Homo sapiens: one gene and its partners. The protein of the gene in region 1 purifies or fractionates together with the protein of each later gene. This does not show direct contact. Each region holds a gene or a part of one and is shown in the gene's direction. Other genes may lie near its edges.

The links.
Region 2: the proteins of NGLY1 (region 1) and OSTM1 purify together in Homo sapiens (co-immunoprecipitation; one large-scale study listed by IntAct). This does not show direct contact.
Region 3: the proteins of NGLY1 (region 1) and TMEM87A purify together in Homo sapiens (co-immunoprecipitation; one large-scale study listed by IntAct). This does not show direct contact.
Region 4: the proteins of NGLY1 (region 1) and NHLRC3 purify together in Homo sapiens (co-immunoprecipitation; one large-scale study listed by IntAct). This does not show direct contact.
Region 5: the proteins of NGLY1 (region 1) and ENPP6 purify together in Homo sapiens (co-immunoprecipitation; one large-scale study listed by IntAct). This does not show direct contact.
Region 6: the proteins of NGLY1 (region 1) and GGH purify together in Homo sapiens (co-immunoprecipitation; one large-scale study listed by IntAct). This does not show direct contact.
Region 7: the proteins of NGLY1 (region 1) and SCARA3 purify together in Homo sapiens (co-immunoprecipitation; one large-scale study listed by IntAct). This does not show direct contact.

What each region holds. Positions count from the first base shown.
Region 1 is NC_000003.12:25,762,461-25,766,568, reverse strand, and holds part of NGLY1 (peptide-N(4)-(N-acetyl-beta-glucosaminyl)asparagine amidase), read left to right. Parts: intron 1-2,257; coding exon 2,258-2,503; intron 2,504-4,108. UniProt on the Homo sapiens protein: Specifically deglycosylates the denatured form of N-linked glycoproteins in the cytoplasm and assists their proteasome-mediated degradation. Cleaves the beta-aspartyl-glucosamine (GlcNAc) of the glycan and the amide side chain of Asn, converting Asn to Asp.
Region 2 is NC_000006.12:108,053,846-108,057,953, reverse strand, and holds part of OSTM1 (osteopetrosis-associated transmembrane protein 1 precursor), read left to right. Parts: intron 1-3,366; coding exon 3,367-3,464; intron 3,465-4,108. UniProt on the Homo sapiens protein: Required for osteoclast and melanocyte maturation and function.
Region 3 is NC_000015.10:42,227,929-42,232,036, reverse strand, and holds part of TMEM87A (transmembrane protein 87A isoform 1 precursor), read left to right. Parts: intron 1-121; coding exon of another isoform or gene 122-193; intron 194-776; coding exon 777-845; exon of another isoform or gene 846-915; intron 916-3,216; coding exon 3,217-3,325; intron 3,326-4,108. UniProt on the Homo sapiens protein: Potential monoatomic ion channel gated by mechanical force, implicated in normal touch sensitivity through the generation of mechanically activated currents.
Region 4 is NC_000013.11:39,041,335-39,045,442, forward strand, and holds part of NHLRC3 (NHL repeat-containing protein 3 isoform a precursor), read left to right. Parts: intron 1-770; coding exon 771-971; intron 972-2,755; coding exon 2,756-2,847; intron 2,848-4,108.
Region 5 is NC_000004.12:184,214,976-184,219,801, reverse strand, and holds the start of ENPP6 (glycerophosphocholine cholinephosphodiesterase ENPP6 precursor), read left to right. Parts: upstream 1-1,928; 5' UTR 1,929-1,982; coding exon 1,983-2,223; intron 2,224-4,826. UniProt on the Homo sapiens protein: Choline-specific glycerophosphodiesterase that hydrolyzes glycerophosphocholine (GPC) and lysophosphatidylcholine (LPC) and contributes to supplying choline to the cells.
Region 6 is NC_000008.11:63,028,346-63,032,453, reverse strand, and holds part of GGH (gamma-glutamyl hydrolase isoform 1 precursor), read left to right. Parts: intron 1-2,236; coding exon 2,237-2,287; intron 2,288-4,108. UniProt on the Homo sapiens protein: Hydrolyzes the polyglutamate sidechains of pteroylpolyglutamates. Progressively removes gamma-glutamyl residues from pteroylpoly-gamma-glutamate to yield pteroyl-alpha-glutamate (folic acid) and free glutamate.
Region 7 is NC_000008.11:27,640,123-27,644,230, forward strand, and holds part of SCARA3 (scavenger receptor class A member 3), read left to right. Parts: intron 1-4,108. UniProt on the Homo sapiens protein: Seems to protect cells by scavenging oxidative molecules or harmful products of oxidation.

The sequences.
Region 1 (4,108 bases):
ATTACAGTTGTACAAATGTTCTCCGCTCATTCCCTTCAACTATTTGTGCAAGCTCATGGGTTTCAGTCTCTGTTCAGTCAAAGATGGAGTCATTTATAGCATAACGATTAAGGTCATGGAGTCTGAATCCCTGCTCTGCCAGTTGTTCTGTGGCTTCAAGCAGGTTAACTTCCCTGAGCCTTTGTATTTTCATGTGAGTATTGGCCGGGAATGGTGGCTCACGCCTATAATCCCAGCTTTTTGGGAGGCTGTGGTGGGCGGATCACCTGAAGTCAGGAGTTTGAGACCAGCCTGACCAACGTGGTGAAATCCTGTCTCTACTAAAAAATACAAAAATTACCCAGGTGTGGTGGCGCATGCCTGTAATCCCAGCTACTTGGGAGACTGAGGCAGGAGAATTGCTTGAACCTGGGAGGTGGAGGTTGCAGTGAGCCGAGATCACACCACTGCACTCCAGACTGGGCAACAAGAGCAAAACTCTGTCTCCAAAAAAAAAAAAAGTATTAATCTAATACCTACTTTTCAGGGTAGTTGTATTACTTGAGATGATGTATTTAAAACGCCCAGCATTTTGCTTTGGGAGGCTGAGGTGGGAGGATCATTTGAGGTTAGGAGTTTGAGACCAGCCTGGGCAAAAGAGTGAGACCCCTGTCTCTCCAAAAAATAAAAATCATCCAGGTGTGGTGGCATGCACCTGTAGTCCTAGCTGCTGGGAGGCTGAGGATGGAAGATCGCTTGAGCCCAAGAGTTTGAGGTTATAGCTTTGATCACTCCACTGCACTCCAGCCTGGGTGACAGAGGGAGACCCTGCCTCAGAGAAAAAAATGCCTAGCACAGTACTTAGAACACACAAAGACAATACATTGTAGTTGTCTTTTTTATAGCAATTATGAATCATACGTGGAGCTTGCTGGTCTAATCCAGCTTTTTAAAAAGGATTCAGATGGAATTGACTTTCATGTCATTGAGTAATGTCTTGTTCAGTTGATTCCTGTAGGTCTGCCATCACCAGGGAAATACAGTAATATTGTCGATTTTGGAGTTTAATTTAAATGCTCATGATCTGCAGGTCTGTGTACTACAGACTGTTGCAACTTTTTTTTTTTTTTTTTTTTGAGACTGAGTCCTGCTCTGTCACCTAGGCTGGAGTGCAGTGGCACGATCTCAGCTCACCTCTGCCTCCCAGGTTCAAGCAATTCTCCTGCCTCAGCCTCCCAAGTAGCTGGGATTACAGGCACCCGCCACCATGCCCAGCTTATTTTTGTATTTTTGGTAGAGACAGGGTTTTGCCATGTTGACCAGGCTGGTCTCGAACCCCTGACCTCAGGTAATCTGCCCATGTGAGCCTCCCAAAGTGCTGGGATTACAGGCGTGAGCCACCATGCCCAGCTGCAACTTTTTATCTTGTTTGCAGTTGGAGAAATTACTGTTTTTAACATTGTTTCTTTTCAATACCTGGAAATTTGATCAAATACATTGTCATTTCATTTCACCTTTTTTCTTGTTTTGAGTAATTTACTGTTTTACATTATAGAATTTGTTGTAGCATTTTATTTTAAAGCATTCTTAGCATATTTATAGGTATTCTTTAAATGAGTCACTACTGAAATACATGATTTTTATTTCTTTTGTTTTGTTCGGATTACCTTCCTATTACTGTTAACCATCCATAGTTTTGGATTGACTATCAGGGTGTACTTTTCGTTATCGTGGAAAAATTAGTTGACCCCATACACAGGCTTCTAATCATGTAGCTATTCTTTAAAGACTCAGATTAACAAGATTCAAAGGTTGTTAGATAACTTCTTGTTGGTTTTATGTGACCCTGGATTCTTTTGTGTGGCTGTATCTCTACTGTCATTATTATTTCATAGGGAATTTCATAGAGAATAGTAGTATCATATACTATTGCAGAGAGGATAGGAATATGCATTTTTGCAACCCTTATGAGGCCTTCTGACTTATTGTTTCTAGAAGATCAAATATTTTTTCCTGAAAGTCCTTTGAACCACATTAAATAGGCTAAGGATTAAATGCCAAAAAGGAGATAATTTTTTTTTTAATTTTCTGGTTTATGTTTAGGCATTATTTACCTTAGGCTGTATTTAAAAAGAACCATAATGGTAAGAAAACAGTATGATTTTAGAAACATGCATTCTATATTATTGGTTTCATTATACATTTCTGTGTGTGTGTGCACAAAAGAATGACTGCATAAAGCAAAGGTTCACATTTTTTTTAATTTTATAAATTCCAGGGAGAAACACATCTCATCTTTCCTAAAAAAGCTTCAGTGGAGCAGCTGCAAAAAATTCGTGACCTGATTGCCATAGAGAGAAGTAGCAGACTGGATGGCTCAAATAAGAGCCACAAAGTAAAGTCATCTCAGCAACCTGCAGCCAGTACCCAGCTTCCTACAACACCATCTTCAAATCCCAGTGGGTTAAACCAGCACACAAGGAACCGTCAAGGGCAGTCATCAGATCCACCATCTGCTTCAACGGTAATGTTAGAATTAAACCTTCTTTAACTGTTTCTTTCAAAGTGTTGAAACAGCAAAAGCTTTGGAATGTGTTATGATTTATTCCTGAATTTATGCCCCATATTTTGTTCTTAGTTCTTATAACTCTAAAACATCCAAATTTCTTCAGCTCTTTAAAAAATTGTCAGATTTCCTCTACTGCATTAATACTTCTGATCTAAATTGTACCTGCTGCCTTTCACTGTGGGGGTTATTTCCAACAGCACAACCATTATCAATACCTTAATTCAATAAAAAAGCTTCTTTAGGTTTAAGGTAATTAAGAATGCATTAATTTAATGATAGTGGATGCTAGCAAATTAGTGAAATTTTATTATTAATATACACCATATATACTTGTGAAGAACTAAAGTCAAACTTACAGGCATTCTTGATAAACTGAAATGATTCCATTTGATAGGAAATTATCCTGTTTACAAAAATCTCTTTTGACCAAGGTCCTTACATATTCTTCTCCTAAGTTTTTACTGTCAGAAAAATTCTTGTGATATTTCTGTAAGTCTAACAAGCACCTCAATGGATTTTTATGCCCCTCCCTGAGATCATGTGCATTCCATTTTGAATACCTTAGGTCTTCATCAGTTTTGCAGTTAAGGTTGGTACAGTTACAGAAGCTCACTTAACATCTTTCTTGGTTTTTAACACCTTTTCTTAGGAGTTTTCCAATTACAGTGTTAGAATATATCTTTTAAGATTTCCTACTTTATCTTTTTAATTGCAGTATTATAGTTTAAAATGCACATAGTTAACCAATCTGCAAAAAAGCTTGCAAACATTTTATTTTACAAAATATCTCTTTCCTGGGCTAAGTAGTATTTTGTTAGTGTCCTGGCTCAGGAAAGCCATTCACATTTTCTTAATCTTGTTTAAACTTCTTTTCTTTTGTTTTGTTTTTTTCTTTTTTTGAGACAGAGTCTCATTCTGTCCAGGCTGTAGTACAGTGGCAAAATCTTGGCTCACTGCAACCTCTGCCTCCCAGGTTGAAGTGATTCTCGTGCCTCAGCCTCCTGAGTTTCTGGAAATAAAGGCATGCACCATCTCTCCTGGCTAATTTTTGTTTTTTCTTCTTTTTGAGACGGAGTTTCACTCTTGTTGCCCAGGCTAGAATGCAATGGCACGATCTTGGCTCACTGCAACCCCCACCTCCTGGGTTCAAGAGATTCTATAGCCTGCGCCTCCCGAGTAGCTGGGATTATAGGCACCTGCCACCACACTTGGCTAATTTTTTGTGTTTTTAGTAGAGACGGGGTTTCTCCATGTGTGCCAGGCTGGTCTCAAAACTCCTGACCTCAAGTGATCCACCTGCCTTGGCCTCCCAAAGTGCTGGATTACAGATGTGCACCACCACACCCAGCCCTTTTTTTAAGTTCTTAATCTTACAATTCAGATATAGTTCCAGGTCTTTAAAATCCTGTCCGTCACCAGAAAGCCTCTAAACACTACACTAAAAACAGAATGTCATTCTGTTGGCAAAACACATTCTAGTGTAGAAGAAAATAAATTTTCTCAAAGGTGTATGCTATTAGTAGGCTAGTGTATATCAATTCTTACTACTCTAGTCCTTCA
Region 2 (4,108 bases), on another chromosome or scaffold:
AGGAAATTCATAATGACCACTTCACTTAGTGCTTAAAGGAAGCTTTATTATTATTAATATTCTTTAACTCACCAATTTCTAAAACATACAGCTTCTCACTGTTTATAATCTTAAGCTCCCAATTCCTGCAAAAAGATAAAAAAGGAATTTACTAGAGATCTGTTATTTCGATTCAGAAAGTCATGGCTTTTTAATAATGAAGACTTTTTAACCCCATTATATAAATGAACTGCTTTATGCTTTATGTTACCACCATCTAATGATCATTGAAAAAGTTTTGATGGTAATGCATTAATGTAATTATTAATAAAAGAAATTAAGTTCTTTTGTTCTTCAGAGAAGCTTTCTTTATAAATTGCTTTTGCAAAAGAAATTATTTGTTTTAATTAGGTATCTTGCATAGAAGAAATTTGCTATTGCTCTCTCATGATAATGCACTTTATACTACTTTTGCTGGCAGTATGTGGACCCCTTTTATCCCTATATTGTTATGTCAGTTGTCACGACATAGCTCATTATAACACAGATGTACAACTGTTGTGAATGAAATTGTGTTCCCTTAACTTCCCTGCAACACATCAACTACAAAAACTATATAATTGTTTTTGTAAACATGTACAAAAACTATGTAATTGTTTGTTTTTATTTATATCAACTCTGCCTCATCCCTAAAAGGATTGCGGGCTACTTCATGATGATATTAAACTAGCATTAAGAGGGGCAATGAGACAAGTTCTTACTCTTTCATGCAGGTTGGAATGCAGTGGCGCAATCACAGCTTATTGCAGCCTCGACCTCCCCAAGCTGAAGCAATTCTCCCCTCTCAGCCTCCCAAGCCGCTGGGACCACAGATGCACGCCACCATGCCTGGCTAATTTTGTATTATTTGTAGAGACAGGTTTTCACCATGTTGCCCAGGCTGGTCTCGAACTCCTGGACTCAGGCAATCCACCTGCCTCCCAAAATGCTGGGATTACAGGTGTGAACCACCATGCTGGCCTATTTTTATATCAATGGCTTATTAACTTGTGGTATGATCATCAGCATATCACCTATTTCTGTGGCTTAGTTTCCTAATTTGTAGTGATCCCTCAGATTTTTTAAATAAGGGTGAGAAGTTAGAATGAGATTCATGTTCTGGAGAAGATAAAGCTTCAGAGAATGTAGAGTATGTGAGTTCAGAGAGGGGACAACTCCTGAAATAGGTTTACCAAGAGGATCCTGTGTACAATGGGTGCAGAAGGAGCCCTGCACAAGGGGGCTGTACAAGGAGGTGAATGGGGCTGAATTCCAGCTTAGCTTCTGGAGGCAGGAATGACCTTTTGTAATTTATCTACCCAGAGGGAATATCTTTTTCTGATTTGCACAAAGGAGCTTTACTGTGCTGTCTGCCCCTGTCTACCAGGTTTAGGTTTCATCTCAGTTGCTAACTCTGATCAGTTGGTGGGGACTGCCTGAATCCCTGTATGGTGTAAGATATCTATGGGTAGTGGAGGGAGTAGGCAGTGGCATGTATTTGTAGATTCCGAGTCTTGAACTTTTAATGGTTTAGAATGTAGATATAAATATGTTTATTTTGCAGTGTTTGAGAGTGCAGGCTCAAGAATCAGACTGAGTACAGAGTCTAGCTTTTTACTTACCAGTTTTATGTCCTTGGGCAACTTCCTTAATTTATCTAAACCTATCTCTGTTCCTTATTTATAAAATGGAGATAATGATAATTTTTCCCTCATGGAATCACTGCAAGAATTAAATGGGCAAATGTGTTTAAAGTGCAGTGTAAGCATAGTTCTTAGAACATAGCAAGTATTTAGTAAGTGTTAACTTTCGTTGTAGTAATTGTTGTCTGTCAGAGTACATGGATGTCCCTTAGTGTGTCATATCCTAGTGTCTACCTAGTCCGTCTCTCTTTTCTCCACAAATTCTACTTGCCTTGCTGCCTTTCTCCTGGGTAATTGCAATAGCTTTGCATGTTGTCTTTCCACTTCCAGTTGAGAGAGATCCTATCTGATGGCCCTGAATTTCTAAATAAGGTGGGCATAATACAAAGCCATCTGTTGAAATTAAGGGGAACAAGAGTAGGGCTGGGACTAGAGATGAGAAAATATGTGGAACATCCCTTGCAGAGCAATTAGGAGGGCATCTACAAGGATCATTTTGTTGCCCCGAGATCAGAACACATGAATTTGAATTGAGTCCCTTCATTATCATTTTAGAATTTCTGTAGTAGTATTCTGTAACCAGACTGAGAGTACAGAAAGTAGATGGGGACTGTCCAGGGATGAAAATGGCTGTGAATATGTGGAAGATAAAGAGGGCAAGGATTCTAGGAGAGTCAGATGGAAACGACTGACCACAAGTTCCAAGATCTGGAACCAGGCAGTTGAACCTCGATTGGAGATAGCAGGCTGAGAACACAAGGAGAGGTAAAGACAAAGGTTTACCTGAGGATAAAGACTAGGTTCCCTGGCTGAGCGCAGTGGCTCATGCCTTTAAGTAATCCCAGCACTTTGGAAGGTTGAGGTGGGAACATCACTTGCGCCCAGGAGTTCAAGTCTGCAATGAGCTGGCAAATTGTGCCACTGCACTCCAGCCTGGGCAACCGAGCAAGACCCCGTTTCTTAAAAAAAAAAAGAAGAATAGATTATTCCCTGAAGAAGGGAAAATGGATACATAAATTGTGATATACACATACATAGAAAATAAAAGGGATGAGTGAACTTGAGCTAACTCTAAGCAAGAATAGCCAGTTGCAGAGAAATACCATTTATGTAGGATTTTTAAAAATGTAAAACAATTTTGTTTCTAGACTTTACTTGAAGCCCCCACGTCAGTATTTTAGGCAAAATTCTCACCAGTTTGTTTCTCTGGGCTCCCAACTCGTGATGGATTAGAAAGAGCGAATTTTAAAAGTTACCCCATTAGGTACAATAAATGACTCATTAGTGAAGTTGGAAGATGCAGAGAACTATGAAATTTGACACAAAAAATGATAAGGCATATGAGTTTCGGTAAAATTAATGCAGGGTAAACAGTCTTATGCCTAAATAGCACTGTTAAGGCAGCATTTGATAGCTGATATTCCGTGATTATGACCTTGTGCCATCAAAAGTCCATTTGAATTTTATTTGGTATATTTTTATGAAAAGAGAGTATGTGATTATTTTAACATGTTCATGAAAATGGTTATGACTTTTTTAACTTTTGGAAAATAAAAGGAGTAAGCTTCATATATTTGGAAAATTCATGCTTGTTTGAATAAAGAATTACTGTAGTGTGAAACGAAGCTGATAGCTTAAGATATAAATGACAACATAGAATTGTTCCTTGAGTTATATTAATATACTTTTTGAATTTTTTTGACAGATTGTTTAACAAACAACAGTGAAGAATTATCAAACAGCACAGTATATTTCCTTAATCTATTTAATCACACCCTGACCTGCTTTGAACATAACCTTCAGGTATTTTATATATAATATTTAAAATTAAAATGCTGCCTTGTACAAAGGAATAATGTGCAGTTCCAAGTTTTTAGAGCACTAATTATTGATATTTATCTAAATTCATGATGTAAAGGAGTTAGTGGACCTGGATTTCTGCTCTTAAGTAAGTTCTTCTACTTACAAATCATGAAAACCTCAGTTCTCTCATTGTAAAATGGAGATAATATCTATCCTGCCTATCTTAAAGTATTTTGTAATGAGAATCTGGTGAGATAATGATTGTGAAAACATTGATTGAGGTGTGTGATTGTTTAATTAAAACACAATGGTTTTCAATCTGACTTACGTAGGTATTTTGCAGTGTAGTATGATTCTGTCTATAGGAAGTTTATTCTTTGCCTGAAATTTGCTTAAGTATGTTTTACCTACCTTAAAAAGCACTGTTTAGTAAGATAACTTTGAGTATTGAATTATGATAATAAAAGGTAGCTTTAAGAATCTTAACCTTGTAGATTATTGCCATCTCTATCTCTGACTCTTGAATTTTGGTATTGGAACTTGCCCGGTCGTGGTGAAGGACGAGGTTGGAACTCTGGTTAAAATGTAGTTTTGAAACTTACATAACAAGTAAGTAATCCCCATAGTAGATGTACACATGCTTA
Region 3 (4,108 bases), on another chromosome or scaffold:
ACACTTTGTGGATGCACATTTGCTTTTCAAATCACACTGTCCTCTGTATGTAATTCTCTTAGACTTCTAGCAACTTTAACCCTCTGTCAATTTCATTTTCTTTCTTCTGCTGTTGCTATAGTATTTTTCTTATCCCTTGACTCTGATAGTAAACCTGGCCCTCTCAGCAATTGACGCCTGTGTTATTTTATGGATATCCTTTCAGTAATGCCTGTTGATTGGGTAATTAGGGTTATATAAAAAACATACTCTATATAAACTCCTGGAAACATGCAGCATAGTTTTTCAGACAGATAATTGCCTTACATTTTATTTTGGGGTGAGCTCTTATTTGTAAAATATTATAATTTTAGAAATTAATAATTCTTTGTATATGATGCAGTAATTTTTTTTAAATACGAGAAAAGTCTTTTCAGACTTGTAGCCAAAATTGCAATAATAGGAAATGATAGATTAAGGATGGGGCTTATAAACATTAGAACTTTTTTGGAATATGGTCACTTGTTAACATGGATCTTTATATATGAAAAACTCGTACTTAGCAGTATGTTTCGAGATTGTAAATGACAATTTATGTGAAATGCTTATAGCTGTATATTCTATGTGATGGTTTATAAGAAGGGAAGAATGATTAGGTGTCAAATGTTCTTTTTATTTTCTTTCAGTTCAATGCAAAAACTTTCCAGTGATTATGTAAATGCAGAATCATGTGGTGGTTTCTTCTCTGTGCCTCTCTAGACATCTGTTTTTCACCACTTCTTTTTCTTTGTCTGCAGGCCCAGACTGATCTTGCTTCCTTGGCCTTTATCCCCTTGGCTTTCCTAGACACTGCCTTGTGCTGGTGGATATCCTTCTCATTGGCTTGTTTGATGATGGTCCATTTTCTCCCCTTGAGATGGGTTTCCATTGATCTTTCTGCAAAGAGTTTTTATCAGTTTTGTTAATTACTCCTTAGTGTGGGGAACAGTGCATGCTAAGTCTTAACAACCTGAGGGTTCAGGTAAGCAGTTTTTTTTGTTTCTATTTTTTTAATTTTAAAAATCAAATTGGAAATTGGTGACTGTGGACCGAGCTCGAGATAAAATCTTTTGGCTTTTTTCTTTTAAGTGAGCATTTCATCTTGATTTTGCACTTCTTGTTTGTGTACCTAATCATTTAGTGTTAGAGTCACTGGCTGTGCTGGTCCTGCTCTGCCTTTTAGCCTCTAGCAATTCTTAAATGCTTTGAAACTTATGAAAAGATTTTGATCCTTAAAATTTGATTTCAGGAACTATGTAAGGTGCTTTGACTTTTCTGAAACTCTGTATGTTCAGCAGGTTTTAACCCTTATGGAGTGAGTGTTTTCTTGCCTCATTCAAAAGCTGGCTTGGAATTGTTTGAAGATTTCCACCCTTCAGAATAAATAATTGATTCATTTACAGGCAGAGTCAACCAGCAGATAACAAACAAGCTTCTATTTGAGCAATCTTTTTCTCCTGCTCTTTAAAATTAAATTTATATATTAGGGGCTTGGCCTGATGGCTAAAGGATTCAAGTTTTTGGACTTTATCTTATTGAATTTGTTTTGGTTTTTATATATTTGGTCCTATTAGCAGTTTTCATTATTACTGACCTGATAGATTGTGACTGTTGAAAAACTGTGAATGTAAACAAAATTGTTTTGTGAATTTGAGTGGGTTGCTGTATAAGAGTTTTCAGTTAAAGTGTCCTTGGACTAAATAGCCAAAGCTTTTCTAGATTAGTATCTTTCTAAGTGTTTTGTGAACCTCTGCAAGCGTTGAGAGAAGAGGGAGGTGGGAATGGATTGTACAGTAAGATAACCCAATGACTAGGTAACAGCTACGGCTCTGTAAGGGCAGAGCAAGTGCCAAATCCCTTATTTTTGTATCTGCTTCTCATTCTGAAAATTGAGCCGGGTGCAGTGGCTCATGCCTGTAACCCCAGCACTTTGGGAGGCTGAGATGGGCAGATTGCTTTAAGCTCAGGAGTTTGAGACCAGCCTGGGCAACATGGCGAAGCCCTATCTCTACAAAAAATACAAAAATTCATCAGGCATTGTGGCTTGCACCTGTAGTCCCAGCTGCTCGGGAGCCTGAGGCAGGAGAATTGCTTGAGCCCTGGAAGCGGAGGTTGCAGTGAGCCGAGATCGCACCGCTGCACTCCAGCCTGAGTGACAGAGTGAGACCCTGTCTCAAAAAGAAAAGAACATTGAACGTGAGAGCAGATACCATTTTTAGTAGTCACCAATTCCCCTCCTGTTTTTCTCTGGCAACTTCTACTTGAGAATAATGTTCTGAAAATGGAGAGTCATTGCTTTTGGAAGCAAACCATATGAGCTTCTCAACCAATTGTAAGGTCCTCTTAATTCAGGATAGTGCAGGCAACTGATGGCAGGTTCCTTAAGATGGCATGAGGGGACTGAGTGTAGATCTCTGGGAGATTATAGGCACGAGTATAATTATGACCCTCAACTAGATTTGCTGGACAGATGAGAACAGAGCTACCCACCTTAAAGGGAGAGAGAAGATGATGTTAACTCTTTGTCCCTTGCCTGTTACTCATGTTCACTTTATCTTCTGCCATTTCTCTATTTATTTTCTGTCTTTTTTTTTTGTTTCTCTAGAAAGCCTCTTCCTTTCTCTTTTTTATATTTTTTCTCTTGTGATTTTGTACATTCTTACTTTATTCTGGTTCTGTCTTCTCTTTAATGTCTCATTGAAAATGATGACTTCCGGCCAGGTATGGTGGCTCGTGCCTGTAATGCCAGCACTTTGGGAGGCCAAGGCAGGAGGATCAGTTGAGGTCAGGAGTTTAAGACCAGCCTGAGCAACATAGCGAGACCTTATCTCTACAAAAAAATTTAAAAATTAGCCAGGCATGGTGGCACATGCCTGTAGTCCCAGCTGCTTGGGAGGCTGAGGTGGGAGGATCGCTTGAGCTTCAGTGGTCAAGGCTGCAGTGAGCCGTGATTGTGCCACTGCACTCTAGCCTGGGCTAGACCTTGCCTCACAAAAAAAAAAGGAAAAGAAAATAAAATGATGACTTTCTTATTCATCTTGAGGTGTTTGTGAGATTAAGTGAGAATAAGAGAGCTATAAGGCCTCTGAGAGATCTATAAGTTTATTGGCATGACCCCAGATCCTTAAAGAAACCTGAAAACTAATTGGCTAGCTTACTGTTTTTTCCTGAATGTTGAATTCCTTGACCTGCAAACACATATTTATTAGCCTGACTCAAACAATGAAGCTATTAAAACTTCGGAGGAACATTGTAAAACTCTCTTTGTATCGGCATTTCACCAACACGCTTATTTTGGCAGTGGCAGGTAAGTCTGGGACTTTCTTCTTGGAGTTCAAATGTGATCTGTTTAGAATGGACATTCTTAACCTGAAAGGCCATGGGTGGACATAGAAAGTTTTGTATATTTCACTTGGAAAAGGGTTCTTAGCTCTTGTCAAATTCTCAGAAGGATCTGTGGTTTTTAAAAAGTTGAGAACCATTTATTTTATGTACAGTAGCTGGAAATCAACCTCATATTTCAGCTCTTCATTTATCCCTCTTCTATTTGCATTCTTTCTTGAGGCATTCTTTTTCTTGAGGTTAGTTAGCTTAAGTGCCAGAGAGTACTCCTTTTAGAAGACATTACCACATGTTTGTTTAGTTTTATTAAATAGTTGTAGAATTTTAGGGTGCATTGCTATTATAGTGGTTTTACATATGTCAGCAAGCATATGTAAAAAATTGACATTAGGTGGACTGTAACCAAACTAGGCTAATTTGCCTACCTCCTGACCCTTGTACCAGGAATAGTGAGGTCTGATTTATGATTGGAACTAGCTCTTCTGTTTGTGTTACAGTCGTTTTATCAGCCATTTTTTTTCATCTGACCAGCCAAAGAAAAATTAGCATTACTATACTAAGGATAAAAGGAGAAAAAAATTATATTGATAATGCTGGAAAGAGCTATATTTCCAATACCTTATTTTCCAACCACACTGGTTACTGATGTAGCCAGATGGCAAATAACATTATTACCAAATTATTCTTTAAATAGAGAAAGGATTGGCCAGAGTATGTATCATGAGCCTTGCTGATAGCAGGTATACAG
Region 4 (4,108 bases), on another chromosome or scaffold:
TAGAATTGTAATGCAAGCTGATTCACTTTCTTTCTGGTAAGCTCAATGTATCCAGTTTGTCTTTTGAATACCTATCAATTAATTTGGCATATGTACCTTCAAATTGATTTCTGTTCACTGCTTTATGATATTCCCTTATTAGTAGTCTGCTTTATGCTCTTGCTTGTAAGATAATTTTAACTTAAAGAAATTTTAACGTGAGAAAATAAGATACTCATGATTTACAAAGATTATTTTCTTCTTAGCAAAGAAAAGTTGGGTTGAATTTTGAATGTCTCCACAAGGTGAAAATGCAGTTAAAAAAAAAATCTGTACCATAGAGAACGTTTTTGTTGACTTACTGAAATTTAAGGTCTGTATGTGAGTGATTGAAATAACAGTTTCAAATATAAGTTGTTCCCTTTACATTTTCTTCTTGATTTCCTTTCATAAGCAATGCTTATTCAAGGTCATAAGATTAAAAAAGAAAATGGTGCACCAATACTTTGTTAGCATTCTGAGTTTCCTGTATAATGAGTCAATTATGGGGATGTTATTTATTTGAATTTAGAATCCGCTTATTTTGGACTAATGGAGATTTTAATTCGTGATCAAATTTGGCTGTAATTTACGAAGAAGCTATAGTGCTTGTCAATTATATGTAATTTCCTAAGCCTATCACCTATTTGTTATTATTTACTTCTATCAAATTTTTGCTCTTAGCTTACTTGAAAAATCTGAATGTTTGTATAGTGGTTTTATTTGTGAGATGTACATATCTATCTTTATAGGATTCTTTGGTCATACTGTTAAAAAATACAGTTCTTTTGGTGATCTTGTTCAAGTCTTGGGTACTCCAGGCAAAAAAGGCACTAGTTTGAATCCTTTGCAGTTTGATAACCCAGCAGAATTATATGTAGAGGACACAGGAGATATTTACATTGTGGATGGAGATGGAGGATTGAATAACAGATTGATCAAACTGTCCCAAGGTACATTACTTGTTTATGGTATTATAAAAATATTATAAATTGATTTTAATTTGTTCGATATTTGGTATAATGTTTTAAGTGTTGTGTATGAAGCGGTGTGTAAAGAGCTAAGTGTATTACTACGAGAAAACTGAAAAACAGATGGGTATGATTGCCCACAATAAATGATCCTGATAACAGGCCCACTTATTCTTCACCAAAGGCCAGGAGATTCCTCCAAAAGTAACTGGCAACAGTATGAGAATTTCTAGTGGGCTCAGGAGATAAGTGTGTATCCTATTTAATTAAGCATGTAGAAATTAGAAACCTAGAATCCCAGACTCAAGTATCCTACAGGCTGATTAATCAGCAAGCATTTTATTGAGTGCCCTTTCTGTGTCCTCTCTAGTATCAGGAGGTGCAGATCTATTATGTATTGAAACAATGAAATGTAGTCTATGCTATTGATTCTTAAAGCAAAATGGACTTAGGAGGAGAAACTAAATTGCCTGGAGAAATAGAACAAGATATCATGAAGGAAGTAGTTATTGAACTAAACTAGTTTTGGTGGGAGGAGAGGGGAGGATGGATGGAACATTCATGGAGGGTTTATCATGCATGGTCTACAGGCATTTATTAGCAGGAAAGAAGGTGAAGATGCACTTTTTCAGCAGCAGAAAATACAATTTGGGATGTTTCTGAAGTCTTATTTGAGGATTATTAAAGCCATGTTTTTGCCTATAACATTTTTGAGGTTTTCCTAGTAGAAAAGTGATGTTACAACAGCAGGTTTTATAAGACATTCTTTTAGGATCTACTTCAAGTGAGCTCTGTCATTTGGAGGCTGTGTAGTCAATTTATCAATTAGTAACTGAATTTGGTTGATAACAGTTGAAAGGGAAATGTAGAATAAGGATAAAGCAAGAATCCAAAAAATTGAATGAAAGAAACAACGAAATCTAGGAGACAGATTGAATATAAGTGTATTAGTTTCCTGTGGTTGCCATAACAAATTGCCACAAACTGCGTGGCTTTAAACAACATAAATTTATTCTCACAGTTTTGGAATCCAGAAGTTAGAAATCTGGTAGACTGTGCTCACTCTAAAGGTCCTGCCTTGCCGCTTCTAGTTTCTGGTGGCTCAAGCATTCCTTGGCTTGTGGCAGCAAAACTCTGATGTCTGTCTCCATATTCACATGGCGGCCCCTTCTTCTCTGTGTGTTTTTGTGCCTCCAGTCTTTCCCTTCTTTCTCTTAATAAGGATTTAGGGCCCACCCTAAATCCAGGATGATCTCATGAGATCCCTAATTTAATTTTATCTGCAAAAACTATTTCCAAATAGCATCACATTCCCAGGTATCAGGAGTTAGGACTTGGACATCTTTTTAAAGGACCACAGTTGAACCCACCGTAGTGCGTAATAAAGGAGATAGACGGTAAAATCATAATGTGAATTTTTAAGGTCTGTGGAATACTAATATCAAGTAACAGATAAGTTGGGAAGGGGAACCAGTTTTAGGGAGAGGATGGCATAAACCCTAAACAATGATTTTGAAGCAGTCATGAAAAATTCAAGTGGAGATAATAATTAAAGAAGTAGATTAATTCCCTAAAGCAGAGAAGGAACTTTAAAAAAAAAACTGTAAGAAATGGGCAAATGGGCATATAGACAGGAAAGCCGAGAAAGCATAGTCAAGTGAACCAGCGGTGTAATTAAATAGTTCTTTGTAACCTGTTTCATAAAATATGCAAATGCATGAGACATTCTATATGTTGCTCTGACTATATATTTTTACCGTTTATAGATTTCATGATCCTTTGGCTGCATGGAGAAAATGGGACAGGGCCTGCTAAGTTCAACATACCTCACAGTGTTACACTTGATTCAGCTGGTCGGGTACAAATACAGCGTCATTGTGTCTGGGACTTTGTGTCTGAATATGTTTGTGTGTGTGTGTGTGTGTGTGTGTGTGTGTGTGTGTGTCTGGGCATGTATATATAGATTGTGGTATACATGTGTGTCTGGGCATGTGGATACATGTGTGTTAGTGGGTATGTCTGGGTAATTACTCTGGGGCTGGGTGTGCACACATACTTTCTTACAAGTGTTTGAGTCCTATAGTGAGGGGGTTCCCCAAACATTTAGAAAGGAGCAAAATGGATTTCCTGTACCATTTAAAAGGATAGAAGGCACAAATAATGGATCTGAACATAAAGTTACCTGAAAGAAAAAGTTGCCCTCTTACTGGGAAAACTCCACTAAAAGTGTTTGAATATCTTTTCACTTCTCAAGAAAAAAATGTGCTGATCTAAAGTGGAGTGGGAGAGGTTAACCTTGGAAGTCTGAAAAAGAGTCACCTAGGCAAACTCTTGTTCTCACTAACTCCACATTGTTTAGGGAACAGAAAGCTTTAGCCAACAAATTTCAATCAGTTTCTCTCTTTTCTACCCTACTCACTACTATCTCTTTTGCATTTACTCAATTTCTAAGCATAGATCTCACTTCTTTGAGGTTACCTTTTCACAACGAAACCGCCACCAAAAAATTTGTATATTAGTTTCTCCTGCTCTTTTCCTATAGCAGCCTGTACTTCGTATCATAGTAACTATCATGCTATATTATAATCATTTGTCTGTCTCCCCTAATAGATGTCAGGCTGTTGAAAGTGCTTACTGAATCTCTTTTGCTTTATTTCTTTGTGCCTAGTACACAGTAGTCATATTTATTTATTAAATGACTAAATGTCTTGACACACAATGGGTACATTAGGCTACTTGCCTTCATACCATTAGGCATTTAATCCATTTCTACTTCTGATTCAGTGCTCAGCAAACAAACTTCTAATTATGACTTGGCTTCCTAATCATAATTGATTGACAAAAATGAGAATGTTTTGATCATTAAATCTTCTGATCTGCCATAAGACGTTAATCAACCATGTGAACTTTGTATATAAATTGGGAACTGGAAACTTTGAATTAAACTTTTGCACATTATCCTCCTGAGCTTGGGTGACTCATTGTGTGCTAAGAAAAAAAATCAAATTTCAGAACATGCGAGACCTCGACCCAGGTAAATTCATCATGGTGAGGAACGCCCTTCTAAAAGGCCTTGGAAATCATCTGATGGGGGTACTCTGGCATTCCTGAGTGATAAA
Region 5 (4,826 bases), on another chromosome or scaffold:
CCCTCCCCTTTCCTTCCCTTCCTCCCTTTTCTTCCTTTCTTCTCTTCCCTTCTGTTCTCTTTCCTTCTTCCCTTTTCTTCCCTTCCCTTTCTTTCTCTTTCTCCCTTCCTTCGTTTACTTTTCTTTCTTTCCTTTTTCTTTCTTTCTTCCTTCCTTTCCTCTTTCTTCTCTCTTTTCTTTTTCTCTGTTTATAGCAACAATACCACACAGCTCAAAGAAAAAAGAATAACATTGTTTTCAAAGTAACAACCTTTTAGGATAAACTCCCCTTTTCCTTATTTTTTAATAAGAAAAAAATTTAAATTTAATTATAAAAAGCATTACCTCTTATTGGAAAAAAGAATTCTGATCCTTGGCCAAGTCCCCTGAGAGGGGAGTGGTAATTTGGCCAATGTGTTTCTCTTTTGCAGCATAATTTAAAAAGTGACATGGTGATCCTGTGTTTGGGCTTGACTCAAATACAACAGAAAAAGAGAAGGAGAAAAGACACAAGCAGAGGGCAGAGGTGGAAGAGGGATTTTGGGGTTGACTGAGAGTGGCTGGTGTGGCTGGTGTCTATCTTCCTTCCCTGGAAAGTTTGCCCAGAGCCTGCAAGTTTCCTCAGGAGACAAGCAATGTTATAATGCGAATAACATCTAACATTTGTTCAACACTTGCTATGGACCATGCATGTTTTATGTCTTTTTTTTTTTGAGGCAGGGCCTCACTCTGTTGCCCAGCCTGGAGTGCAGTGATACAATCACAGCTTACTGCAGATATGACCACCTGTGCTCACACAATCCTCCCACCTCAGCCTCCTGTGTAGCTGGGACCAGGCACGTGCCGCCAGGCCCAGCTAATTTTTTAATTTTTTATAGAGATGGGGTCTTGCTGTGTTGCCCAGGCTGGTCTCAAGCTCCTGGCCTCAAGCAATCCTTCCACCTTGGCCTCCCAAAGTGGGCCACTGCACTCAGCCATGTTTTATAAGCCTTCACATGAATTGTGTTGTTTAATTTTATGTAGCATGACGGAGCCACTCTAGGGAACCCCTGGACTCTGGGTACTTTGTGCTAACTCTGTCTGCTCCCCAGCTCACATCTGCCTCCCTGTCACTAACCTCCTCCTATTTTCCACTCCGCCTAGTCTTCTCGGTCCCAAAGCCTGCATGGTAATTTCTAGCTCTGCTTTTCCATCTCAAGCTCTCAATCTCCAGCTCTCTATTTCATTTCCATCCTCCTGGGGCAATGCTGCTTCAGACCATTCTGCCAGTAATGATTTCCCATTGTCCAACTCTGGAAGCTTCTCATTGGCTCTAGGGCTCTTCTACGAACCACCTCCTCCTATGGGCACCAGCAGCTAAATCACATTTGAAAAATAAAATAATAACAAATAATAACACTGCATATAAAAACATAAGTGGCCAAGACATAGACAAATAACTTTTTTAAGTGCTGTGTCTACAGAGACACAGCTGGGAAGTTTACAAATGGGCCCACCGAAACGTATTGTTTCCTGTTTATGCACTGAGTCCAGAGGTTTGCGTTACTAAATTCTAAGTGAAAAAGAGTTTAAATGAGGCCATGATGTGGGATAACAGCAAATTAAAATCTTGCCCTTTTCCTTGGTTCCTCCCTTTGGTTAGCTCAACTGCAAAGTTAGTGTTGACTTTGTCATCTTCTAAAATTCCACCTCTGTGGGTGCTTGTATTTCTGGAACGTTCACCAAAAATAATAAGTTTGAACTCTCTCCCCTGGTGTTAATTCTGGGTTGTTTGGAACCCAGTTTATCTGAAGGAGTCGGTCTCTGGACTTTCTAGTAAAGGGTGAGCATAGATGTGTGGAAAAGGGGGTGCTGTTCCTTTAAATTCTGCAAGTGAACTTGACTCAGGAAGGCCAGCGGCTCAAGGTCCAGCCCCTGGAAGAGAGAATAGCTACAGATTCTCCATCCTCAGTCTTTGCAAGGCGACAGCTGTGCCAGCCGGGCTCTGGCAGGCTCCTGGCAGCATGGCAGTGAAGCTTGGGACCCTCCTGCTGGCCCTTGCCCTGGGCCTGGCCCAGCCAGCCTCTGCCCGCCGGAAGCTGCTGGTGTTTCTGCTGGATGGTTTTCGCTCAGACTACATCAGTGATGAGGCGCTGGAGTCATTGCCTGGTTTCAAAGAGATTGTGAGCAGGGGAGTAAAAGTGGATTACTTGACTCCAGACTTCCCTAGTCTCTCGTATCCCAATTATTATACCCTAATGACTGGTGAGTACCATGTCCTCTTCTGGGCAGGGAGGGGAGGGCTGGCATCCAGCAGGGAACAGTGAGCTCCTGGCATTGGAGTCTTATTTAAATGCTCTGGATTCTCTAGTCCTTTGGGACATCAAAGGTAGATAAAAAAAATCTGTGTTCTTGGCTGAGAAGACTTTTGTTTTCGTGGCGGTATTGTTTCCCAAAAGTTATCCCAAGGACCTGTTTTGGATTCTCAGTGCGGAGGACAGAGAACTATAGCAGTACATGATATTTGACGATATTAAAAGTGGTCGTTTATTTTAGAAAGAGAAATTCTAATGAGGCTCATATTTTCTAAGTTCAAGTCTGCAAAAGCAACAGGTGTCCGTGCATGTGTCCCAAACTCCTTCTGTCCCTTTTCTCTGTGGTCATGTCATCCTGGCACCCTGTGGGCTTGTTTCTCAGTGTGTTGGACTGTGAAAGTACCTGTGGGGTCCTCAGAGGGGAGTGGTGCTCCCGGATTACTTGGGGAAGGGGGGATGTTTAGGTCATATCCTTCCCTGTGACTTAGCAATGCCACCTTCCCCTTCTTTTGCCTTTTTGGCCAGGTAAAATGATACGGAGAAGAAAAAGCTTGTGTCGTTCAGGTTCCCCATTTGTGATTTGCAGCATCTACAAAAGACCAACCAGCAAAAACTCCACAAAACAAACAAAAACCTCGGCTAACCCAGACTGCCTGGGCTTGGGATAGCTGATTTTCCTAAGGACGGCCTTCATCTGAAATTGCCAGGACTCCAAACGCGACTGCATGAACCTGAGCCTCTATCCGTGCGATAATAGAATGTGCAGCCCTCTCTCTGCTCACAGAGTTGGATTCCCAGTTTCTGGTTTGTTTTTCAGCTATAACCTTTGTAAAGGCAGCGAGAGGCTCTCAGAAAGAATTTAGCAAACTATCCAGGGAGGCTGCTAAGAATGCACTGTTATTGCTGGTTATGCGGGACTCAGCTATGCACTCTGAGCACAGAGAGAGCTCTGCTAATTATGTTAACAGAAAGAAAATGAGATCTCTGATATCTCATGGACCTCCACAGAACACTAAAGCCAAAAGAGTCTAAAACAGACATTTATATCTCTGACTTTGTGCATAGATACTATATACACATGTACGGAAAAATGCCATAAACTGATGCCCCAAACTGAAGGGGAGAGATACTTCGGAGAAATAAAAATGAGGGCATGAGAGAGAGAAAAAAATCAGACTGCACACAAGCAAGGAAGTTATGTATTTGTTTTTTATTTCCCCCAGCAGACAAAAAAACAGTCTCTAAGATAAACAGAATTAACAAAATTCTCTGGCCCTCCCCTGGCATGTGTCTCCCCTTGCAGGGAAGCAGTTTGCAGGCTGCCGGCTCTCACATAGACGTGATTGTGTGGACAGCCGACTCCAGCTCTGTGCAGCGGCTTCACACACACAGCCCACCCCCACTCCAGCTGTCTTTCAGAGCCTTGCCAGGGGACCCAATTCATAAACTGCCACGCCACGTGCAGCTTCTGCAATCTTAGTGGAAAATGAACAAAATCCATCTTAGAAAGGACTCAAGTAAGTAAAAGGACCATTACAGACTCCACAGAGACACTAAGCCAATGACATGGCCTTTTGTTTGTCAGATCCACACTCCTGATATTGGCACAAGGAATAATTTGCACACAGCCTCCGTCATGCTGAGACACACCTTCTTTTCCGGCTGTGGGTGTTTTCCCTTGTGCTGTCCTGAGAGAAGGGCCCCTTCCTTTATGGGCAGCACAGGTCCCGTGAGTGTCTGACAAAGATCTCACCCTTGCTTTCAAACTGAGGCTGGCCCGAGGAAGCCACAGGTCTCCATATGTGTTAAGTCTCTGTATTTTCAGATGGCCAAATGTATTCACTGATGTGGAAGTCTGCTTGGTCTATATGTTTCATAGAAGCTACCCTGCACAAGGGAGGGATCTAGCAAGGCTCATGTTTCTGTACAAATGTCCTTGGGTATGATTTGTCTTGTACCTACTGGGCAGACTTGCAGACTTGAAGCAGAATTCGCAGGCTGGGAAATGCCAGGCCATGAACCTGGTATCACCTCCACTGTCTTGGAACTGACTCAGAGTTAAATTTAGACTATTTTCCCCAATACCCATACTTATTTTTCCACCTGATGCTGAAAACCTCCTCTTTTACTCATATAAAGAAGGATATAGCCATTGGGAATTGTAGCTAAACATATGGTTTGAGCATTTGAGCATTTTATGAACCAACAAAATTGCTATGCTAGATCTTTTTGGAAGCAAAAGATATGCTGTTTTAGGGTTCCTCAGCATTCACAAGAGAGGCTAAGCTCTCACTTCATTACCCGAATTATTGCTCAGAATACAGAAAGCCCTTGGTGTTCTTCCCTTTGCATAACGAGGAGTGATGAGTTGTTGGAAAGAATGCTGGCCCTTGAGCTGGGAGAACTTGCTTGGAGACTTCAGGCAAAATAAAATGAGATGAACTGCCGGGGCTGCATCAGGCCGGGATTTCAGGTGCTGCTGGATGCAGACATAGAACTAGGCAATGCATGGGGAATTTTATTTTATTTTATTTCACTTTAAATTCTGGGACA
Region 6 (4,108 bases), on another chromosome or scaffold:
GGGACTAGTGGAAAAGAGAATGTCCTGCTTCCTCAGAGGTAGCATACAGGAGCCCATGGACTGCTGCTTTTGGTTTAAAAACGTGTTTTGTTCACACAGCGTTTTAAAACATGAATCAGGCTGGGCGCGGTGGCTCACGTCTATTATCCCAGCACTTTGGGAGGCTGAGGTGGGAAGATCGCTTAAGTTCATGAGTTTGAGACCAGCTTGGGCAACATGGAAAAACCCCTATCTATAAAAAATTTTTAAAAAATGAGCTGGGAGTGGTGGCGTGCACCTATGGGCCCAGCTACTCAGGAGGCTGAGGTGGGAGGATCACTTGAGCCCAGGAGGTGGAGGTTACAGTGAGCTGAGATGGCGCTACTGCACTCCAGCCTGGGTGACAGAGCCAGACCTTTCTCAAAAAAACCCCAAAGACCACAAATCAAACTTTATAAGAGTCTGAATTTTTGTTTCTTTTGAAGACAGTTATCTAGATTGAGTTTTAAATGGGGCAAACACTCCCCATTGGCAACAATGCCTTACCATCCTTTTCATGCTGCTAAAGCTGTGTGTCATTTGCCATCATCACCAGGCTTAAGCCATTTCGTTACAGTTAAGGAGAGAGTAAACTGTTCCTCATACCTTGTTGAAAGGGACTTTTGTTTCAAAAAATGTCTGACAACATGCAACTAACAGCTGTATTCTCTGCCAGGGCCCCTAGGCACCAGAGTTGTGACATGGCACACTCCTTCCCCTGTGACAATTAGGTCTCTTAATAGAGATAAATGGGGACCAAAACTATAGTCATGGACAGTGTGGGAGCCATTTATTTAGAATTAATGAAATGACTGAAACTAGCTTGCACCGCTAGCTGGCAGGAATCCTTGGAGTGCAGCTGTGTGATCTAAATCCATTTTGGTCCCTGATGGCGATGGTTGCCCATTTTGGTTTAAATATCCATGGGGAGAATTCTGGGTCCTGACTGGCTGGTTCCTTTTTGTTGCCACAATCTGGGGAGATTAGACTGGCAGAATACTGGGTACATGTATATTGATATTTCACCTCCCTATCACTTCCCAAGGCAGGGCTACCTGTCAGTATTTTCTCCACTTAAGAATGGTAAGCACCATTCTGGTATCACCCATTGCTTTGTGGCTCTCGCCAGGAAGAGATTACTATGAACTTGTGAGAGACCTGGACTTGCAAAGCTTGTTTGGACTTAGAGTAGATCCCAGAGTTGTTTGCTGGCAAAACACAGCCTGTGTTCTGGATATCACAGGTGTCTAGTTAATAATGGGTGTGAGGGACTTTACCTCCCCCTAAAACTTCTTTGAGGGCAGAAATGGACTAGTTGACATCTAATCATAAGTCTACTTCTTTTAGGGCAGGTTGAGAGGACAGGTACCATTTATTCTGTCACAGAAACAGAAGGCTGCTAAATGTGGGAGAGTTCTTGCAAGGATTTCACTAACTTGGTGCTCTCTTCCCTTATTGTTGCATTTTATTGAACTTTCGGGAGAGCAGATATCTGTGACTTAGTAAATGTTGTCACCATATGTCACAGATTAAGCCCATCTTTTTTTTCTGGAGAAAGGGAATAAAGTCACCAATAACATGGCGATTGTTAGGAGGCCCTTAAGGGGTGTTTGATCAAGGGTCTTTCAGAGTAATTACCTGGGCAGTTAGGCTGTTCTACAGTCATCTCTCTGTGGTCCTCAGTTCAGACTAGATGTGAACCATCCTGACTTTGAAATGCAGAGTAGTCCCTAGACTGTTGCAACTAGTTTGTTGGGGTGGGATCAGGCAGCGACTTGGCATTTATTTATGCATTTTTTAATCTGCCAGAGCTTCCTGTAGTTAAATAGGCATGATAAATAAAGTTATTTAAAGGAGTCTTTACATAAAACTACTGAATATTCTTACATTTCTTTTTGTAGTTCTTGGTTAGTAGAGAAATTACTGGTGGCCAAATCTCACGGTCTTTACTGTTTTTGCATACTAACACATACTTCACAATATTAAATTGCATTAGATCACAGAAAAACATATTTACTTGTCTGATTAGCAAAACAAGGATAGAATGATGTGGCTTTCAAGTGGTTTGCAAAAATGCCTCTAGAAAAGTAGAGAGGTAATATTGTCTAGTAATTAAAAATTTGTTTTTATTTGGCTTTTTAAAAGTAAATGTGGAGACTTCATTTAGAGGTTTACTTCTAAGTTTCACAAATGTAACAATAACTTTTATTGTTTTCAGGCTGGATCTTACAGAGAAAGACTATGAAATACTTTTCAAATCTATTAATGGGTAAGTTGGCAGCATTGGTTTCATACGGTATATGAGTGGTCTACATATGTCTGCTTTTGTAAAAGAAATCATATAAATATTATACATGTTTCTATGTAACTGTCTTAGAGTGGTATAGTATTAGTGTTCTGAGTTCTTTTATAGGATTTATTTTCTTGGGAGATGCAAAAGTCCTTCAAAAGAGGAAGAGGCAGGTTAGGAAATGTATAATTGTTACATAGTAGACACACATAATTTTTTTAAATGTGTGACTTAATCTTTGTTCTTTTAATGCTTGTCTTAAATGTTTTGAAGCTACCTTGAATGGCGTGGCATACTGCTTGCATATGGGGTTTATAAGTCCAAAGTCTGAGGATGTTGATTTTTTTTTTCAGGTAAATTGGGAAAAAATATTCACCATTACTCTTAATTTTAGGAAAGAAGGCTAATTACAGCAATCAAAAACATTTAATTACCATGTTGGCAGAGATCAGAAAATTTGCTTATACTCTATGGGGCCTGTGAGGAAACAAGTGTGCTCATACTTTATTAGAGGGAATGTAAATCAGGTAGTCTTTTTTGGGGTAATATTGCAATACCTATTGAAATTAGAAACACGTATACCCTTTGACCTGGGAACTTGAGGAGGAATTTTATTTTATAAATATATTCCCACCTTGCATGAAGACTTAGACTCAAATCTATGCATTGTATTAGTAGTATTGTCTGACAGTCACCCCGTAATCCATCAGGTGAGAATTGGTTAAATAAAACAGACTATGTACATTCAATAGAATACTATGCAGGAATTAAAAAATGCGGCTATCTGTAGATGCTGACTTAGATCACCATTGTCCTATGAACAATGTGATAGTGTTATGTGAAAAAGGCAAGGCACGTGATGGTGTGTATAGCATACACCCCGTTTGCTTTTTGTTAAAGGTGGGGGTGAAGAGATATGCATATTTCTACCAAATCAACACAGCAGATTTTAATGGCAGTTGTTTCTGATTGGGAATAGGGTGGAAGTATTTTACTGTAAAATGTTTTTTTAAAAGAGCTTTATTATTTTTACTTCTAAAACCATGTTAATTTATTGTTTCTTTTAAAAAGCTATGTTTAGAAAATTATTTGCCTTCAGTTCAGTTTGGTTCAGTAAATATTTACCATAAAATCAGTTCAATTTAGTAAAACATTTACAATGCCCAGTATGTGCTGTGTGCAAGGTACTTTGGCATGGACAAAGATCATTAAGTCTAGGCTAGAATATAATAGTAGAACCTCAAAAATAGACCTTTTGAAACACTTCATTTTCTTCCCACCCTCTCCCCAGTTGCATTCCTGTTTGGAGAGGAATCTGAATCAAGTAGCAGTGTAGACAGGAATACATACTTTGGGGAGCTAGCCTGTCCAGATGCTCAGTATGTCTTCATGCAAACCAGCAAAAGGAGTCCATTTTCTATCTTCCTCACTCGTTTTCTGCATTGCCACTAATTGTTGCTCCTGTAGGCCCCTTTTCTCTCTCATGTAGTCACTGAAAGCTGCACTCCAAAGTGGGTTAAATTAGGGGCCTTATTTATATCTCTGAGTGTCACCAGAAAATGAGCCGTATTCTAATGTGACTTCAAAAGCACCTTTATTGAGTCACTGTTATGCAGTGGACCCCATAGTATTTTGCAGGGGAATGCAGAGATGAAAAGACAGAGCCATGCTTTAAGGAGTTTGTCATATAGGAGGGACAGTCAGGTTTTGCTGCATGAAAGGAGTTTGGGGTTAGACATACCGTATTTGGTCATAGGCAGCTTTTTAAATACTAAGTTAATGTCTGTAAGCTGGAGACCT
Region 7 (4,108 bases), on another chromosome or scaffold:
GGAGGCAAGGGAAGGAGAAAAGATGGTTACAGACATAGACTCTGCATTACGAGCAGCTGCATTTAACCTTTTTATAACACATTTATTATTTTTTTAAAAATCAAAAAATTCCAAAAAGGAAAAACATTCACTCACGTGAACTCCTGCCCTGTAGAGATAATAAATGACAAAATGTAGATGAACATTCTTCAGAAATCATTCTGTGTATGTTTGCACAGATTTTTTTCATGTAGATAAGATTACACTATCCATGTTATTTTTATTTTTATTTTATTTTACTTTGAGACATAGTCTCACTCTGTGCCCAGGCTGGAGTGCAGTGGTACCATTGTAGGTTACTGCAGCCTTGACCTCCTGGGCTCAAGGATCCTCCCAGCCTCCCAAGTAGCTGGGACTATAAGCAGGTGCCACCATGCCCAGCTAATTTTTGTATTATTTGTAGAGATGAAGTCTCGCTATGTTGCCCAGGCTGGTCTCAAGCTCCCGACCTCAAGCAATCCTCCCTCCTCAGCCTCCCGATTACTTAGCGTTTTTGTTCTTAGTGCTGGTTTTTAGTTGTTGCTTTTGTTTTTGTTTGTTTGTTTCTTTGCTTGAGACAGAGTCTTGCTCTGTTGCCCAAGCTGGAGGGTAGTGGCACTATCATGGCTCACTGCAGCCTCAACCTCTTAGGCTCAAGCAATTGTCCTACCTCAGCCTCCCAAGTAACTGGGACTACAGATGCATGCCACCATGCCCAGCTAATTTTTGTATTTTTTGTAGAGATGAGGTTTCACCCTGTTCCCCAGGCTGATCTCAAACTCTTGGGCTCAAGTGATCCTCCTGCCTTAGCCTCCCAAAATGCTGGGATTACAGGCGTGAGCCACTGCACCCAGCTTGCAGTATTTTTAAAAAATGGTTTCATAACATCCCATAGTAAGACTCTACGAGCATTTATGTAACCAATCCCCTGGAGATGGGCATTTTAGCTATTTGCATTTTCCCTCAGATTTATCATAGCATGCAGTGATCACCTTTACACATACACCTTGGCCTAATTGTGTAATTATTCTCTTAACATGAAGTTCCTAGAAGGAGGATTACTGAGTCAAAGGGCACTCGCCCTTGCAGTATTGACAGAGGGTGCCAGGCTACTCAGAATGCACGAGAAGGCCTCTTTCCCCATCCCTCCCCCAGACTGGGTTTGAAGTGTAGGCATCTGGACAGAGTTAGTGGATGATAAAGAAAGAAGTTGGAACCTCATGGTCTTGATCCTTTCAGAAAAGGAGGGGGTGAGCTCATCTTTGGGGAATGAGGTGGGCTGACCTGAGGAGGAACCCAGGAATGGGAAGTGAGGATCCAGATGGCAGGACTTGGCTGAAGCCAAATGCATGCCCCCCTCTGACACTCTCCTGCAGCTCCAGGCTTCTCTAGTGCAATTCGAAGAAAGCAGGCTGAGGATGGAAGGGACCATGGCCAGGAGAGAGAACTACAGGCTCCATGGGGCAGAACTCAACCCTTGGGGACTGGGCTGGGCTTGGAGGTCAGGGCGAATGAGAACTTGGAGGAAGGAGAGCGAGGAAAGGCTGAGTGCATTGGGGATGAAGAAGGCAAGGGGCTTGAGATCAAGCAGATGGAACAGCAATAAGCCTTAAGCTCCAGAGGGCAGGCAGGATGTGTAGAGATGAGACAGTAAATCCCATGTCCAGAGCCCTGAGTTTCAACAGAAAAGCTGCTTCCATTCAAGTTGATGGCAGGAGACAGAATGAAGAATTCATCCAATCCAGGTGATGTCATTGTCCAGAACAGTGTTCCCTAAAGTCAGAGTCCCTCTGCCTCTGAACATAGGTCCCAGAATTAAAAGATACATTTATTTTTCAAGATCTGCAGGAAGTTCCATGACCAAATAAGTCTGAGAAACGTGGAGTTAAACACAGATTTAAATGGGCTTATTATTTTTTTTGGCAGGACTTTTCAAAATGCTTACTATGTGAATGTGAATCTCTAAGATGGCGATAGAGTATGCCATGTTTTCCACACTTACTTGATCAAATAATCCTTTTTCACAAAGAATAATTTGGGACTAGTGTCCCATAGGATATGTTTTGAAACACTGATTTCTTGTAAGTTGGAAATTGGTCCTGGGAGTGATGGGGGTTGGGAGATGGCAATAAATGGCAGCATTAATTGGAATAGGATAGAAAAATAATCCTAATAAAAGTGGCTGCTACTACTATTTATTAAGCATTTACGATGTACCAGGTACTTTTCATATACGTCTCATTGGATTTTCACAGCAGCTCATTGAAGCGGACGATCTCCCCACCATTTACGCATAAGGAACATGAAACTCAGAGGAGGGAAGTGGGGTGCCCATGCGAGACAGGGTAGGATTTGCAGGATCAGGGGTGACAACGGGGATCAAGAGAACTGGTGATTCCTGGCCAGGCATGGTGGCTCATGCCAGTAATCCCAGCACTTTGGGAGACCCAGGGAGGAGGATCACTTCAGGCCAGGAATTTGAGACCAGCCTGGGCAACATAGTGAGATCTTGTCTCTACAAAAAATAAGCAAGATTAGCTGGGTGTGATGGCACACACCTGTAGCCTCAGCTACTTAGGAGGCTGAGGTGGGAGGATCGTTTGAACCCGGGAGGTCTAGGCGGCACTGAGCCATGATCGCACCACAGCACTCCAGCCTGGCCAATAGAGCAAGACCTTGTCTATAAAAAGAAACAAAAAAAGAAAAGAAAAGAAAGCCAGTGATTCCCACCCCTCCCATCCCTCTGAATTCATGGGGTTCAGGGGAGTCGGGGGGGTTGGTGCTGTGGACAGAGAGGAGATCAGTGTGTAAGTAATGGGGGGAGTCTGTTGCATTGAGTGAGTAGCCTAGGTTCTTGTCTCAACTAGAGGCAGCACCAGCCTGCGAGCAGGTATTTAGAAATGGGTGGGCATTCGGGGTTGTCACAATGACCAGGGATTGCTATTGGCCTTTAGCGGGCAAGGCCAGGATGCTGAATGTCTGTGCAGAGTGGGCCGTGCTCATCTAATGAAGAATTGCACCACCTGGAATAGGGTCCAAGTTAGAAAAGTTGAGGGCAAGAAAGTTGTTTAGGATAAAGGGGATTTAGGATAAAGCAGGGATTTACCCACAACCTCTGTGGTTACCAAGAACAGGGTGGGAGGCAGCCAAAGGGATTCAGGTGGAGGTAGCAGGAACCGGGAGGGAAGCCTGTCTCAGAGCAGCAGATGTGGCTTTAGGGATGCAGGAGCTTGAGGATGGGGACCAAAAAAGGGGCGAGTGCTGGAGGAGAGAAACTGGCAGAGCCACGGAAGCAGAAAAGGACAACTTGTTGAGCAAGAAGATTTGAAGGGAAAGGACCTGTGTCTTGAGACCTGAGCGGGCAGGCGGATTCCCAACCGATTACAGACAAACCCACAAAGGAAGCCTGTGGAGAGGGGGTAGTGGCGGAAGGGCTCTAATGAAAACAATTTTGCAACCTTACTTATAGCGTTCTCCAACCTTAAACTAATAGCTATTCTGCACTTTAAATATAGCATTGGCTCCAGAGAAGACTCTGAAATCTTTATTTTTACCGATCCAATTGGCTGTTTTGAAAACCCACTCTGTGAACCCTGCAGAAGATAATTATCAAAATATGTTCCTTGAAGTGCCCAAAGAAAGACCTTTTATTCAGTTCCTCGAATCTCTCCCCCTTGTTGACTCAGATGGAAGAATGCAGTCCCAGAAAGGCGAAAGAGGGAACCAAGGACACATTTTTGGTCAACCAAAAGAAAGCCGGCATTGGTGACCACAGTTGAGTTAGCAGTTGGTTAACAGGTCCGGGCTATTTTCTACCCCCAAAGGGAGAGCTGAACCAAGCTCAACCCCAGTGGAGTCAGTGGCCGTGCTTAGCAATGTGCCAAGGCATGCACCCTCCATCAAACTTGCTACGTGGCTCTGTGAGAGCAGACTTAAAAAAAAAAAAGGAATTTCTCCTCTTGTGGCTGTCCTTTCTGGAGTTTGAGATGGATATTGTGACCTAAGGGATGACAGGAAGAGAGGCCCTTTCAAATTTCTAGTGGTCACCACTATTTTATGGGTCTGGGTTTGCAGCCTTGGCCTTGGCCTT